Regions from separate parts of the Homo sapiens genome. Here region 1 is linked to region 2. The links come from fine-mapping of genetic effects on gene expression. Tissue or cell type: whole blood. Region 2 holds a variant in brackets; the other region holds the start of a gene. All regions are shown on one strand. Distances are from middle to middle.

Region 1 (2,757 bases), 100 kb after region 2:
TGTCAAATGTCAGTCTTTTTCTCCTTAAGAAAGATATAAAAAATCACTCGAATAGACATCTTAGTTCTTGTTTCCTCCTACAATTAATTGTCCGGGGGCGGGGGGACGGGGTGCGGGCGGGGCGAGGGAGACATACAAGAAATCTGTGAGAAAAAAAGGGGCGGGGGAATAAGTCTCCTTGCCTCAAGATTTTAGAAAAAAAGTTGTAAACCTATTGCAGATGAAGGCTCCCACAATTTATTTTTCCTGCTTCTATAAGCATAAATAGTTAATGATAAAAATGGTAAGAGGCATTGACAAAGAGCTCCTAGAATGTCTACAAATTAAGGTGAGTGATCAAACACAAGGTTAGGCCTAGACAGCTTAAGTGTCCTCCACAAATCAGGATAAGCGTTAACAGGACATTAACCTGGAAGCCTTTACCAAACTCTAATTTGGATATAATTTTACCTCACTAAATCCCTCACCTTCAATCAAAACTCCTTTCCCACGTGCCCTTCAGAGTCCACGAAGTTGCTGCCAGATCCCAGCTTAAATCACGTTTCGCTTTCACAGATCTCCCTCCCGGGCAAGGTGGTGGGGTGGATAATGAAGTTTGGCACCTGGTATAAAGGGCCCCAGTAGGTTAGGATAGGAACTACCACTTCTCAGGTGTGTTTTCTTTTTCCGGAAGAGGGCAAGACCAGTAGAGAACTGACTCAGCGTCTCCGACACGAGGAGAGCTGCACGCAGACAAAACAGACCCGGGGGGTGAAAAGTGGAAGTAAACTGGTGTTTGTGGCACCACTGATTTACACCTTCTCTGACTTCTCCAATATTTTTTTCCCCAAGTGACTCAATCTTCTCACCCAAACCAGGCCAAATGAGGGGTTAGTTGTTCGACTTCTTCTCAGAGTGCCTCTCTTCTTCCTCACACTCTCCACGCCTCCTCTCCGCACCCGCCACTTCCCCCCCGACCCTTAAGTTAAGGGCTCATGCCCAACTAGATCCTAATGTCCACGACGAGCAGCTCCAGTCTAGGGGGGGTTGCCTAGAAGTAGGTCTGACGCCGAGCAATCTAATCTCCCACGTCTGATCTCTCAGGCTATTGTGCCTCGAGGGGAAGTCAGAACAGGTGAGGGCGGCTTGAGGGAACCAGTTCCGGGACAGGCAACGCACAGGGCGGCGAAAGTGAGGGTGCGGGGCAAGGAACGGAGGGAGGGACAAAGGCGCGATAAGAGGAACGAGGGCGCCCCCCGAGCGCCGCCTATCTCCTCAGGATCACCTTGCGCTGACCTAGTTACACCGAGAAGGAAGGAACCCCAGTAGACCAGGGAGGAAGGCGGGGCGGGATGTGGGCGGGGCCGCGGGTGGGGCGGGGCTTAGAGTGGGATCTTTATGGAGCTCGCCTGTGATTTGCAGATGGATTCGAGACGGAAGCGGGCTGGGAGGCGTCGGCGGCGGCAGCGCACGTGGTGACGTGCGAGGGGGTGCGGCGCGAGCGGTCGGCGGCGGCGGAGGCAGTGTCTCCCGGTCGCGCGTGGAGGTCGGTCGCTCAGAGCTGCTGGGCGCAGTTTCTCCGCCTGCTGCTTCGGCGCGGCTGTATCGGCGAGCGAGCGAGTTCCCGCGAGTTCTCGGTGGCGCTCCCCCTTCCTTTCAGTCTCCACGGACTGGCCCCTCGTCCTTCTACTTGACCGCTCCCGTCTTCCGCCGCCTTCTGGCGCTTTCCGTTGGGCCGATTCCCGCCCGCTTCCTCCTGCTTCCCATCGAAGCTCTAGAAATGAATGTTTCCATCTCTTCAGAGATGAACCAGGTAATACGCGCTGGTTCTACGAACGACAGATGAGGGAGACGGCGCGGCTAGAATCCGAGAAGAAGGGATGGCGCCGGCGGATGGGAAGAGGGTGGGAGGCGCGGAAGCGGTGTCCTCATCAGGGGAGGCAGCCCCAAGCGGCCGCCGCCGCCCTCTGGGACGTGAAGCCCGCGCCGCGCTGGGCCCGCGCTCCAGCGCTGCCATGGTTGCCAAGTTGCGTTGGCGGCCGAGAGCGGGCGCCGGTCGCCTCGGAGAGCGCGGAGGCTGGAGCCCCTTTGCTACACTGGCGCGGGTGAGGCAGGCTGGGAGGAACAAGAGTTTTTTGTTCGAAGGGTTTTGGGGGGCCTGGGTTAGGGCGCCGCGGGCGGGGATGACCCGCCGGAAGGAGGGCGCGGGACTCCCCGTTCTTGCTGTCAGGAACGGACGCCTCGCCTCGGGTTTGCCTGGGGTTTGGGATTCTCTTCTGGAAGAGCTCTCGAGACTCGGCTCGTGTGGGCGGGCAGCCAGCCCCGGGCCTGGAGTAGGGTGGCACGGAGTCCCCGATCGCCGTGGGCCGCGGGGTCCTTTGTTCCCGCTCCACGTTGCCCGCTTTTCTTGCCAAGCGCGGGGAGAAGGGGGCGGGAGGAGGGAGGGAGCGGCTGCCCTGACGTGTCGGTACTGAGTGACTGCGGGGCTGGCCAATCCGGGGCGGGGGTGTGCGGGTGCTGGGGGCCTCGCCTCGCAGCCTGCGGAGTGGGCGCCGGCCTGGCTGCGCGAGGAGGAAGGCCTGGGACGCTCTTTCTTTTTTATGAAAGAAATCAGTGGCAAGATTTGCTCTTTTTCCGTCCCTCCACGCTTTTGGTTAAGTGTCTCTGATTATAAGCTCTTGATGATAGGAAGGTATCAGGCTGAGGGTTGAACCTAGGGTAACTTGAACCACTACTTGAGAACTACATTTACTTTTTCCCCCAATAGGTAGTGGACAT
Region 2 (2,757 bases):
TCTTTTAGGAAAGTTTTGAGGTTATTTTAAAAGAACTGCAACATCATAAAGAATGCCATATGATTTAGTCAAGGTATTTCTTTTCCCCCACGTTGTCAGTGGCTATTTCTCTCTCATCCATGAGCCCACACACTGAGAAAAATATGCATTTCTCACACCCTGGTGTGTGACCACTCCCTACACATTGGGGCCATACGTTGGCAGATGGTTATTCCATCACCCCACCTAGAAAGAAAACAAATGACTACCATTCAAAGAAAATGAAGGGTTTTAAGTGAAATGGTATAAAAATAATTACCTAGATCATTTCTTTCCTATAATTTGTAACATTCTATTTGACCCAGAACAGAGTGTGATGCATATTTCTTCCTTTTGAGGAAGCTATCTCTGTTGCCACTCATTCGTATACAATCATGCTGATTCTTCTCCATCTCAGCATCCTCTGTTTCATTCCTGTGCAGAACTCTTGTTGATTATAGACTGACCTATTGGAAACATTGGGAGGGTTCCCTTCCTCACCATATGTGTCCCAGTGGTCTGAAATTATATCCTTAGTTATAATTTGTTTTAGGATCTTAAAGGCTTTTTTTGTTTTCAGTCTCCAACAATCTCATGAAAAGTCAAGAGTAAATCCAAGAAGCTGCTAGCACCCTGAGAGTGTGGAGATAGCCTGCCATGCTAGGGGAAGGAATCCAGCGGAAGGAAGGCAGAGGAGAGAGGGCAGTGACAGAAATCTTACTGGAGGACAAATTTAATCTGACTTCAATACAAAAGCATTTCTACAGGCTACTCAGCACTTTATTTACTGCTGTTGAACTCTCCTTTACATTCACATTTAAGCCAAAACAATGACAAACAAAAATACCAAAGTTATAAACACACTGGAGTCAGTAGTAAGAAAAAAAGACGGATATTTTCCTTCTAGAGGCCCAAAAAAGAGATAAGGTAAAAGAAAAAAGGTTGGGGAGCTTAAGAACTTTAGTAGCGGCAGGGACAGAAGTGTGTTGTTTTACTGAACTATGTATGGCTGGCCAGTGTGCTTTCCTTTGTTTGTTCTCCACACTTCCCTCCCCAATTGCACCACATCCCTTACACTAAAAACCCCAATAGCACCTTCCCCAATTGCACCACATCCCTTA[T/C]ACTAAAAACCCCAATAGCACCTTCCCCAATTGCACCACATCCCTTACACTAAAAACCCCAATAGCACCTTCCCCAATTGCACCACATCCCTTACACAAAAAGCAAAAACTTCTGATCAAAATGTTGTAGAGCCTGAAAGGTCAAAAGAAGGATCTCAAAGACTCCACCACCAAACAATGAAGCAATCACTGTAGCCTTGTGCCCCCAGCCCAGAGCCTCACATTCAGAGAAGTAAGTATTAATACCTTCAAGGAAGAACCAAAACACCCTTCTTTCTGTAAGCCCCATGAGAAGCTCATCCAGGCTGGTCCTGGGCAAAGCTGGAAGGGAGAGAACCTAAAGATCTGGCCCATCTGTCCTTCACTGCCGGCTTCCCTGCAGTCCTTTTCCAGAAACCACACCCCACATTCTCAGCCTATCAACAGCGTCCTGGTGACCAGGTACATTCTCATTCTATCATGAGATTGCTGAAAACTAAAGAAGGCATCAAGACCCCCACATGAATTTCTACTGATACAATTTCAGACCTGTGCAGGAAAATATTTAAGACAGAAAACGCTTTCTCGAGAGGGTGCCTTCAAAGTTCCCGGAGCTCTTGTCCCTCAGCTGACTCTCACAAACCTGAAACCAAGTGACCCGGCAGCTGCGGGCTCCTCCATTGACTCAGGCTTCATCAGAGAGCACCATAAGTGCCGTATCTCCTGCTTCAGACCACCTGAGGACCATTCTACCTGTATTATTCATCTGCTAGGGCTGCCATAACAGAATATCACAATCCTAGCACATAAAATATGGAAGAGGTCCTCCACAATGGAGAAAACTATTGGGGATATGCCTTCTGGAGTTTGATCAAGGAAGATGGACACAAACAGAAAAGAAAAACAGTCCAGAGGAAGCTGAAGGGTCTCCTACATTGCACCAGATGCTGCAGATGGGGAGGACCATTCCACTGGATGCATTCGGGACTGTAAACAGCAGACTGTGAGTGCGGCAGGCAGGGATCACCCAGGCTTGACAACTCAACAGAGTGAGTAATCTGCTGTTCTCCCAGACCCAGCAAGAGCATCCGGCATTACTTTAGGGCTGTTTCTCATTTAAAGCAGCCAAGCCACTCTTTTTTATTTTTGTTTACTTTCAGTAGTAATAACAATAATAGTAGTAACAAAAATTGTACCACCTATTGAACACTTGCTGTATAGCAAGCATTGGTTTAATTGCTGTGTATACTTTGTCCCATTTAATTCTCACATTATCTCTATTTTATATAGGAAGAAATTGAAGCAGAGAGAAGTTAGATTAGTTATCCAAGGTCACACAGCTAGTAAGAATAAGAGCCAGTATTTAAACCAGCAACTTTGACTACAGAGTGCTTAGCTACTTCTCTTCATCATTCTACCCTCAGGAGGCAATATGGTTTGACTAGAGCAATGTAGTGAGAAAAACATAAGCTTTAGCCTCACAGACTATTGTTCAAATCCTAGCCCTATGACCAAGGGCAAGTTCACCTGTCTACACTTGGTTGCCTCCTATTTGAAGTGAGGATAATTTATGAAAAGTGCAATCAAAGTAACTCATAAATAGTATCTATCATTATTTTTCTCTCCTAGCTCTGTTTTA

What was found. PIP is the estimated chance that this variant, and not a neighbour inherited with it, causes the effect.
Region 1: IVNS1ABP starts here. The variant in region 2 is fine-mapped to the expression of IVNS1ABP in whole blood (TOPMed, PIP above 0.99).

Annotation. Positions count from the first base shown.
Region 1 is chr1:185,315,988-185,318,744 of GRCh38, reverse strand. It overlaps IVNS1ABP (influenza virus NS1A binding protein), which reads left to right and starts at 1,502. Exons shown (of 15, transcript NM_006469.5): 1 at 1,502-1,792. It overlaps CBSLR (CBS mRNA stabilizing lncRNA), which reads right to left and starts at 1,293. Exons shown (of 4, transcript XR_007066771.1): 1 at 468-1,293. RefSeq lists enhancers at 484-563, 814-913, 1,563-2,176 and silencers at 1,244-1,553, 2,014-2,073.
Region 2 is chr1:185,419,314-185,422,070 of GRCh38, reverse strand. No RefSeq gene overlaps it. Among named protein-coding and RNA genes, the nearest start is that of CBSLR, 100 kb to the right of the region's middle. The variant T/C (reference allele first, on the strand shown) is at 1,140.